Linked DNA regions of Homo sapiens. The protein of the gene in region 3 interacts with the protein of the main gene of each other region in a pairwise test. Each region holds a gene or a part of one and is shown on either strand. Other genes may lie near its edges.

Region 1 (3,653 bases), on a different chromosome or scaffold from region 3:
AAAATGATCAATAAGTTAGCAACACTTTATCCATAAGAAGTCTAATTTTCAGTGCTAATGGGTATATCAGATGAAAGGATACAAATACTGTTCCTGATAGAGATATTCACTCCACAGAGCATCTTCTAATGCTTGAGGAGTGCTTATTCTGAAGCAATAAACATGCTTCTAGTATACCAAGAATGATCAATAAGTTAGCAACACTTTATCCATAAGAAGTCTAATTTTCAGTGCTAATGGGTATATCAGACGAAAGGATACAAATACTGTTCCTGATAGAGATATTCACTATACAGAGCATCTTCTAATGCTTGGGGAGTGCTTATTCTGAAGCAATAAACATGCTTCTGCAGAGCTTCATATAATTTTTGAACACTGCACCCCCAGTAGCATGTAAGGAGGCTATCTTCAAGGCAATCTGTTGTCAAGGTTATGCCAGCTGTAAAAAACAAAGGAGAAAGAATGAAAGTGATTTAATGTAACTTCTAATACAATCATACAGGGTGAGTAACAAAAGCTTCCTTTTGGATGCTGGCCAGGATGATGGCAGTTAAAAGAACTTGTTAAAGGGTATGCCTCCTATAAACGAAGGAACTGGCCTCTGTAACAAGAGATATAAAAGCTCAATGTCTACACATTTTTTGAGAGCTATCAAAAAACTATTTCTTACTATTTATCTATTAAAGCTTAGAAACTGTTAATTTTCTTTTTTGGCGACTCTAAGACATTTCCCATCTAGATTTTTAAAACTAAAATACAGTTCACTATTGATAACCTACCACTCTCATAGTGTATATGATCCTAACGACAAGAAACAGTGCAGCAGAATACAGCTGTCCTCTAAAGGGGATATGTACAACCTATAGGCTCCACAACATGATCGCTGTTGTAAGAAAAATATTAAAAAGAAACTGAGCTTTACTAACATTAATGTATACATTGACAACATTAACATACAGGCTTGTCACAGACTTAATGTCCCATGTAATATGCAAAATATCCTGAGGAAAAGAGTGGGGATTCCAAAACATAAAGAGTTTAATAGTGGTATCTTAATTCAGTTGTTCACTTTCAACTTAAGAAGATATAACAATTTGAGTAGACCTGATTAAATGGATATACAAATTGTAAGTAGATGTGAAATTATACAGTTTTATTTAACACTTGTATAGGACTTACTTTGTGTCACCTATGTGATTTCCCCCTCCTAGTGGTATTTGTAGCAATATCACATTCAAGGGTAGCAACATCCAGCCTTTCATACTGCTGGGGGTGCAAACTGTAGCAGCGCAAACTGTAACGTGTAGTACTCCTTGGCACTGATACACTGACTAGATAAAAAGGGCCTGGTTTTGGTCATTGTTCCTGGCTCAACAGCCTTGGCATCTGATTTTGGCTCTCCAAACCTGCCAGCAATTCTGTAAGCTACCCAATATCCTTTTATTGAAGTTGTTTCTGTTGCTTGCTAATAAGAATTCTGATTGATATATTACCTATTTTTTAAAATGTGATCAAGAGTATATGTTAGAAGAAGATACACAAATACAAGCAGATGCTCCACAGGATACCAAAAACTGATTTTTCCAATTTTACTCTCAGTATTTAGTAGTATGTACACACAGTCTGAGAGTCTGAGTAGCATTGATACATGGCCATTTCTAATCATACTTAAGGAAAAATTTTAATTGGTAGGAACTTTGCATAGGTTAATTGGAGCAGGCTTTGATTTCAAATTTTTATGATTCCAATCATCAGGTATTAACTCAAGAATGAAAAATTCCATTTGATATTAAATAGCTGAAGGAAAACATTTTATTTATACATACACAAATACATATACACACATATACACACACATACAAAATCACACATATTTTTCCCTTTGTCACTGTAGAACCACATAACATGAGGCAGAAGAAAAAAGCTGGAGGTAGATACGAAAGGAAAAAATAGAAAATGCATATTTTAAAACATTGAAAAAGAAAAAACAAGAAACACAAAATGATTATTTATTATTGTATTACTAGCAAAAATGTGAAAAGATATATGTATAAGGCTACTCATTATAGCACTAGTTATCATAGCAAAATGCTGGAATAAACCCAAATGTTCATCAATGCGGATTAAATGAATAAATATAGTACTCTACAATAAAGTACTAAGAAGCTATTAAAAGTGAATAGGAAGGCGGAGGTTACAGTGAGCCGAGATCGTGCCACTGCACTACAACCTGGCTGACACAGTGAGACTCTGTCTCTTAAAAAAAAAAAAAAAAAAAAAAGAATTGAGGTATATCAGAGTATCTGCACACACTATTATGAAATGATCTTCAGAATATATTAGTAAATGAAAAAAAAGCAAGGTAGAGAAAATTAAATATATATGCTACTGTTTATCTCACAAGAATGGATACCCATATATGTGTTTGTTTACATTAAAGAAGAACAGGCTGGGTGTGGTGTTTCATGCCTGTAATTCCAGCACTTTGGGAGGCCAAGATGTGCAGATCACTTGAGCCAGGAGTTTGAGACCAGCCTGGGCCAACGTGGCAAAACCATGTCTCTACAAAACACACAAAAATTAGCTGGGCATGGTGGCACGCACCCGTGGTCCTAACTTCTTGGAAGGCTGAGGTAGGAGGATCACGGCTGCAGTCAGCCATGATCACACCACTACATTTCCACCTGGATGACAGAGTGAGACCCTGTTTCAAAAAAAGAAAAAAAAAAAAAGAACAATGGAAGGATAAGCCTTTTAAAACTCAACTTACAGCTTACAGAACATATAAAACTACCCTGTTTATTTGCTTTGTAAAAAGAAAAAAAAAGCCAGAGCCCCAAAGATTCAGAGCTACTTAAGAGACTCGTTTATAGACTTTGTATACTTAACTAAAATGGGAAGAGTGTCAGAGACCTTTGACAACTGGAGATTAATCAGATCTTAAAATGTCTCTAAAATTAATTTAAAAAAACTACAGAATCTATAAAATTATACTCTCCATAATCTCTTTTTTTAATGTTATTATTATTATACTTTAAGTTTTAGGGTACATGTGCACAATGTGCAGGTTTGCTACATATGTATACATGTGCCATGTTGGTGTCCTGCACCCATTAACTCGTCATTTAGCATTAGGTATATCTCTATAATCTTTTACAAACTTGTCCATTACATAAACTGAGGGGAGAATGTAATGATTTCCACTATCTGAAGACAGTGTCAGTACCCCCATCAAAACTATTCTCCCTTTACCTTTTCCACTTTTTTTTTTGCAAAGAGTTTCAATTTTTATGTATTTTTTTGCCTTCTAAAACTCAGTACACACATGACATCACTTTAGATCAATAGCATTAACAGAATTGGGACGTAGCTGTAAGAAAATTCAGAATCAAAATAAGTGAAGCACATGGGTGTGGTATCTCTCAAACTGTCCTTACCCAGACTATCTATAACAAGCAAATAAAGCGGAGTGTAAGAGACAGCCTTGCAAAAAAGTGAAAAAAATAAGGACTGTAGAAAATATGCTAAGCCACTAAAAAGGGAGAAATGATGGGGCGGAAAAGCCACAAACCTTCTTGAGGAAGGATCCCTGTGAGAGAAGCAGTAATAAAACAAGGAGACCATTCATGAGGATAATAAAGCCAGAGTATTGG
Region 2 (3,753 bases), on a different chromosome or scaffold from region 3:
GATCACTGCAGCTTCCTTCCCCCCACCTCCCCTTGAGATTGCGTCTCACTCTTGCTCAGCCTGGAGTGCAGTGGTACGATCACGGCTCTCTGGGCTCAGGTGAGCCTCCCACCTCAGCCTCCCAAGTAGCTGGGACCACAGGCCCTGCCCCACCACGTCCGGCTAATTTTTGTATTTTTTGTAGAGACCAGGGTCTTACTATGTTGCCCAGGTTAGCCTGGCCACTACAGCTTTGTTAAGGGCCCGGGGGGTATAACAATTAAACCTGAGGTCAGGAGCTCGAGACCAGCCTGGCCAACTTGGTGAACCCCCGTCTTTACTAAAAATAAAAAAAAGAAAGAAGTTAGCCGGGCGTGGTAGTGGGCGCCTGTAATCTCAGCTACTCGGGAGACTGAGGCAGGAGAATTTCTGGAACCTGGGAGACGGAGGTTGCAGTCAGTCGAGATAGCGCCATTGCACTCCAGACTGGGCGACAGAGAGGGCCTCCATCTCAAAAAACAAAACAGGCCGGGCGCGGTGGCTCACGCCTGTAATCCCAGCACATTGGGAGGCCGAGGCGGGCAGATCACGAGGTCAGGAAATCGAGGCCATCCTGGCTAACACGGTGAAACCCCGTCTCTACTAAAAATACAAAAAAATTAGTCGGGGGTGGTGGCGGGCACCTGTAGTAGTCCCAGCTACTCTGGAGGCTGAGGCAGGTGAATGGCGTGAACCCGGAAGGCAGAGCTTGCAGTGAGCCAAGATCGCGCCACCACACTCCAGCCTTGGCGAGAGAGCGAGACTCCATCTCAAAAACAAACAACAACAACAACAAAAAACCAGCAACATAAAAATAATATTATCTGGCCGGGCGCGGTGGCTTAAGCCGGTAATCCCAGCGCAGTGCGAGGCCAAGGCGGGCGGATCGCTTGAGTCCGGGAGTTCGAGACGCCTGGGCAATATAACAAGACCCTGTCTATACAAAACAAAACATAAATTAGCTGGGCACGGTGGCGTGTGCTGCCTGTAGTCCCAGCTACTCAGGAGGCTGAGGCGGGAGGATCGCTTGAGCCCAGAAGGTCGAGACTGCAGTGAGCCGTGATCGCACCACTGCACTCCAGCCTGGGTGACACAGTGAAAATATTTCTCTAAAATAATACCAATAGTATGCCCTTTAATTTGTACCTTAGGACGTAGTTACATAATAAAATGCAGACTTGTTATCTCCATTTTGCAGAGTAGGAAACGAAGGCTCGGGAAGGTTAGGTGAGTTCCCCATGTCACCGCGCTGCTTAAGTGGTGAAGCGGAGTCTCAAGCTCTGTTCTACCCTAAGCCTGGCGCCCTCACCCTGGGTGAGTCTGGACGTCTGCCAGCCCGAGGCGGGCCCAGCGACCCCAGCCTCCAGCGCCCCCCTCTGACAAGCCTGGGATTCGCACGCCCGCTGCCGTCAGGGACAGGGTCTCTGCCCCTCCTCCGGGGCGGTGGTCCAGTGACGTCACCGCTTCTTTAAGACCCCCGCCTCCGCCCCTGTCCCGACACTCGGCCTAGGAATTTCCCTTATCTCCTTCGCAGGTGAGTCCGGGGCTAGTGTGCGTGTTGGAGAGACGCCTCTTGGGGCCGGGTGCAGGGTGGTGGCGGCGTGGGTAGGGGTGCGTGCGAACTCGGGCTGCGGCCACCTGGATGGGCGAGTCCCTGAGGGGGTCGGCCGGTCCGCGCCCAAGCCTCCGAGGTGATAGGGTCCTTCGGGGCTCCCAAGGGTTAAACGCCCCTCCCCCCTCCCCAGGGACAAAGACTCCGAAACCCCTGGCGCCCCTCCCCCACCTGCCTTGCCTCTCGGGGCGGGGCGCCCCTCCCCCCTCCCCCTCACCTGGGGGAGCGGACCTTGCGGCCACTGCAGCTATAGAACCCCTCCAGGGCGCGCGGCTCCCAGGCTGGGGTGGTCGGGTGGGCCGGGGCGCCCTCGGACAGAGTCTTTTTCATGCAGTGCATGAAAAAGAAAGGGGCAGGGGCACACTCAGAGGGGAGAGGCCTGGGCGCCTATACCAGCGCGGCCCCGACCCTAACTCGGCCAGAGGCCTAAGGGCCGGACCTGAGCGCTGGGGCACCGTGCCCCAGCCAGTCTCCCCAAGGTGGTCTGCTCCGCCCAGGCCTGGGGCCCCCGGCTAATGAGTAGAGCCTGCCCTCCGACCGCTGCCGGCCGGGAAAAGTTTAGGTCCAAGCCGTACAATGAAAGTACTCTGGGCAGTGGGAGGCCACAGCCCGGCCCTAGTCAGAAGTGATTCCCTCCACGACCTCCAACACTGAGGGGACACAGGTGCAGGCCAGGTGGCGGTGGGAGAACTGGTGTTGAGGGGAGTCTAGCACGGCATTTTCGTCTAGAATTCATAGGAAAAGGCCCTCAGCCTTGAGGCTATGCTCTCCGGCGCCTAGGGCAGGTCAGAAGGGTGGGGCCAGGGAGTTATCCACTGGCTTTGGGGGAGGAACTGCTTTTAGATGGGGGATTAATGATGCTTTTCTTCATCTCTCCTGGTCCTGGTGTCTGCCAGCCTGGGGTGTGGAACCAAGTTGTGAGGGACATTGGGTGGTGGGAGGAAGCTTAGGATCTCCAATCTTAGTGTTGAAATTAACAAGTTTTGGTTGGGCACGGTGGCTCACACCTGTAATCCCAGCACTTTGGGAGGCTTGAGGCGGGCAGATCACCTGAGGTCAGGAGTTCGAGACCCGCCTGGCCAACTTGATGAAACCCTGTTTCTACTAAAAATACAAAAATTAAGACCAGGTGTGGTGGCTCATGCCTGTAATCCCAGCACTCTGGGAGGCTGAGGCGGGAGGATCACGAAGTCAGGAGATCGAGACCATCCTGGCTAACACAGTGAAACCCCGTCTCTACTAAAAATACAAAAAAATTAGCCGGGCGTGGTGGTGAGCGCCTGTAGTCCCAGCTACTCGGGAGGCTGAGGCAGGAGAATGGCGTGAACCGGGGAGGCAGAACTTGCAGTGAGCCGAGATCCCGCCACTGCACTCCAGGCTGGGCGACAGAGCGAGACTCCGTCTTAAAAAAAAAAAAAAAAAATTAGCCGGGCGTGGTGGTGTGCACCTGTAATCCCAGCTACTTGGGAGGCTGAGGCAGGAGAATCGCTTGAACCTGGGAGGCAGAGGTTGCAGTGAGTGGAGATGGCACCACTGCACTCTAGCCTGGGCCACAGAGCGAGACTCCTCGTCTCAAACAAACAAACAAAACAAATGGACAAGTTTTGAGCCTTAAACTCAGGGCTAGAATTGAACCATTCTACACGGAAACTGCTTGGAAATCGCACCGTCCTGTCATCCTGCTTTTTGCCGCCTTGCAGCCTGATCACTGGCTCTGGCCTTGGACTGTCATTGTATAGGTTTCATCCTGTTATCTTTCATTTGCATTCAGGATAGCCAGGGCAGGGCTGCTTGCACAGTCACTGTCATCAGCCAGTGCCTGTCACATAACTAGAAAGAATAATAAATGCTAAAGCATTAAGTGTCCATTTTGCCCACGAGAAGTGAGGCTCAGGGAGCATGTCTTGACTGAGTTCCAGGATGTGATGACCACTTTCCAGGGTGCATGCCCCTAGAGTCCTGTCCACATGTGGCCTGAGGTCTGGGCCTGCCAGGCCTCACCTTGTTGTGCTTCTGTCCCAAACACAGTGCAGCTCCTTCAACCTCGCCATGGCCTCTGCCGGAATGCAGATCCTGGGAGTCGTCCTGACACTGCTGGGCTGGGTGAATGGCCTGGTCTCCTG
Region 3 (3,653 bases):
GCGTTAGCATACAGAGTCACTTTTATTCCTGACTTGGCTCTCCTTATTTTTTGTTTCTAATGTTTTGGTAAAATTTTGTGACTATTTGTCCCTTCCACTGATTTCTAGTAAGACTTTCCTGAGTTCAAATTTACCTATGTGTTCTCAAGATGCATTATTGGAAGGGAGATGAATTTGGTATTGCCGATAGTTACAAACAGCTGTTACTTCGGCTCCACTCAGGAATAATCTATATACACATTCCTGCAATTGAACACAGCTACTGATCAGTATATAATCCAATTGATTGATGGATCTCAGTGCCTCTTCCTTCATGGTGAATGGAACTAAATAAATAGATAAAATGTGCATTGCACCATGACATGAATTTCTTCCTTTGGTTCCTTATTTTCTATGATGCAGAAACTGCATAGCAGCATGTTTGAAGGTGGCCTGTCAAATTTGGGAAACTGACGGTGTGACTGAGCTAGTCACAGGGGTCTTCACAGAAAAGGCAGTCGGGGTCCTGGTCAACTGGAGATTCCATCTGAATGGTGAGTGAGTGCATCGTAAAGCTTTTGCTAAGGGCTTTAGCAATTTCTCTCCGAACCACTTGGCTGTCCCGGCTGGCTGCTGTTGATAAAGAAGCACAGGGAGATTAGCACTGATTGCACACGCATGGGCGACTGCTCTGACTCCAACTTCAAGTACTTTGTCTTTGACCTGCTGGGGTGGGGCAGAGGCAGGGCACTCAGAGGAAGCCACGTTTGCTCTGATAATCAGCTACATTCACACAGACAAGGCAGGGGAAACTCTAGTGCAGCAAAGTGCCCTGTCGCTATGGGAACTCTTTCTGTCCACTGTTATCTCTGGAGTCTGGCATTCCTAGGAGCTTACTATGGAAGGGGAGACAAGCCCTGGAAAAAGCCAAGACAGAACTATTATTTCTTATACAGCCCTGCTCACCAGCTCCCAGGGATCTCTGGGTTGCAGGCTTTGTATGTAATCAGAATTTATATCAAGGATAGTGACAGGAACCAGGAAGCGTTTAGAGCTCCCCACAGACCTTTCTTAGAGCAGCAACCCTCACTGCCATTTTTTTCCTGTCCCAAATGCTATCAGCAGGCTGTAAAGTCTCCTCCATAGCAACCTGAGTGTTTACTAGATTCTTCCATTTGCAGTGAAATATTGGCATAGTGAATGCTGTAAATTCCCTCAAGTCAGACCTAAGCCCCTTCGAGAAGATGACGATGTCTGAGAAAGCACAGTTTTCAAATGACTGTCACTAGTGTTCCTGTCCCCTGCCCCTAAGTAACTCCTTGAGTCATTTTTTAGCAGCCTAATGTGTTATCCTTGGCCTGAGCTTTCTCTTGAGGCAGTAAATGCCCTCCCACTGCCTATCCTCCCAGCTCTAGGACATATCAGAGACAAAATTAACTTCTTGAAAAAGTAATTTTAGTATAAACCTAGTATTATAAGAATTTTCTCACATGGCTACAGAATTTCTAATCATACAGTGTGGGACCCCACCATAATTCCTATTAGCACATCCATTAGCTTGTTAGAAATTTAAGAGTGGGGCTGGTGTCTCTTTCATCTTCCTATTTTCAGTGCCAGGAAAAACATCTTATACATAGGAGATACTCAATTAAGATTAAGTTTTTAATTCATTCCTATTATTTGACTGATAGGGCACCAAGCCAAACAGATGAAGTTGAATATTCAGAGTCCAAGGCCTTGAAGTGGCGGGTGCATTTTAGTCCTTTGTTCTGTCTGTCCTCAGCCCTCTGCAGTCAGCCCCAAGAATGTCGTGGGTATCATTGTTGCTATGACAACATCAATAAGTGGGCTGGTTTCAAAGGCCCTTGGTAATAGAAAACACTTTATAATGTTTTGACAAGCAACAGACAATAAGGGCAGCTCTACAAAAAGAAGGGAAATTACTGACTTTACAGGACAAGGACTGAATTTTTTCCAGGGTGTTTACAAAACTCACTGACCTGTAGCAACATGAGCTGAGAGAATTACTTGATTCATTGTTAGAGACCAGATGTGCAGGCTGTGCACAGACAGCACCCCGTCGACTGCTAAAATAAGCTCTTTCACACCACTGTAATTCAGGCTCTTTGGCACACCTGACAAAAGGGAAGAGATGGAGGCTGTAGTTATTCAACTAGATACAGCTCATTGAATTACCTAAACAAGCTGCAAAGTCCTCACCAAAATTTCAATGTGTTCATCCCTTTGCTGGTTTCTTACTTCAAATGTTTACAAATAAGATTTACCTGACTACTTCAAGGTTTACCATCAATCAAAATTTCCCACTCAGAATACTTGCAGAATTTACTATGCAATAACCAACAATGGTAATTATCCTTAGTTTTTATGGTATACTATTAAACTAACTGTGCCTTTTCCAACTATCTTTATATACACTCTGGAAAGTAAAATGAAATAACATGAAATTTGGTATCAAATAATCATGGGTTAGCATCCTGACGACAACTATTGTGAATTTACCCAAATCCCAGAACTTCTCTGACCCTCAGCACATTTGTAGTAAAATAAGGGTGTTAAGAACAACACATAGATCACAGAGATCTTTGAGGAGCAATTCAGAAAATATCTAATCATTATGAACAGCAATGTTGTACAAAGATTAGTTACTCAACAGGTCATTTAGTGAACTGTGCTAATAGAGGATCCTAACATTGTATAATACCATCTTATTCGGTTTGTAAGTTTTCTATTATTTTAGCTACATTGGAGGATGCTGTAGAAGAGATGTCTAAGTACAGCCCTTTTTTAGCCTCTACTTCAGTTATGTACAAACAACACAAACACCTGGGGTGTTTATTAAAAATAAATGTACCACGACTCCATTCCAGACCTAAAAGGAAATTTCTATGGATGAAGCTCCAAAATCTAGAGTCTTTCAGAGTGGTTTTCAACCTTGGATGCACATTAGTATTACCAGAGGAGATTTTAGAAATCCTGATGACTAAGTTACACCCAAGACCAATTAAATCAGAATCTCTGTGGATAAGGCCCAACATCAATGCTCATTTGGTGATTCTATCAGGCAGCCAAGATTGAGAACCACTGCACCAACATTCATGAGCCACTGAGCAGCTCTGCTTTGCAGTGGTTCTCTAGTCTGACTACATGTTTTTAAAAATACCAAAGCCAGCCCCAACCCCAGACAATTAAATCAGAATCTCTGGGTGATATAGTTTGCATATTTATCCTTGCCAGTGTCTCATGTTGAATTGTAATCCCTAATGCTGGAAATGGGGCCTGGTGGGAGGTGTTTGGGTCATGGTGCCAGATCCCTCATGGCTTGGTGCTGTCTTTGCGATGATGAGTGAGTTCTTGCAAGATTTGGTCATTTAAAAGTGTGTAGCACCTCCCTTGCCCTTGCTCCATTCCCATCATGTGACGTGCCTTCTCCCCCTTTGCCTTTTGCCGCTATTGGAAGCTTCTTGAGGCCTCCCCAGAAGCAAATGCCACCATGCTTCCTGTACAGCCTGCAGAACCATGAGCCAATTAACCTTATTTTCTTTATAAATTATCCAGTCTCAGGTATTTCTTTATAGCAATGTGAGAACAGCCTAATAACACTGGGTATGGGAGGCCTGAGCATAAGCATTGTTTAAAAGCTTCCCAGAGGATTA

The links.
Region 1: the proteins of SLC30A8 (region 3) and CGRRF1 interact in binary tests that used the Homo sapiens proteins (3 or more experiments, as listed by UniProt).
Region 2: the proteins of SLC30A8 (region 3) and CLDN6 interact in binary tests that used the Homo sapiens proteins (3 or more experiments, as listed by UniProt).

The regions. Positions count from the first base shown.
Region 1 is NC_000014.9:54,526,835-54,530,487, reverse strand, and holds part of CGRRF1 (cell growth regulator with RING finger domain protein 1), read right to left. Parts: intron 440-3,653; coding exon 262-439; intron 1-261. UniProt on the Homo sapiens protein: Able to inhibit growth in several cell lines.
Region 2 is NC_000016.10:3,015,948-3,019,700, reverse strand, and holds the start of CLDN6 (claudin-6), read left to right. Parts: upstream 1-1,517; 5' UTR 1,518-1,552; intron 1,553-3,658; 5' UTR 3,659-3,679; coding exon 3,680-3,753.
Region 3 is NC_000008.11:117,169,495-117,173,147, reverse strand, and holds part of SLC30A8 (proton-coupled zinc antiporter SLC30A8), read right to left. Parts: intron 2,115-3,653; coding exon 1,980-2,114; intron 613-1,979; coding exon 467-612; 3' UTR 1-466. UniProt on the Homo sapiens protein: Proton-coupled zinc ion antiporter mediating the entry of zinc into the lumen of pancreatic beta cell secretory granules, thereby regulating insulin secretion.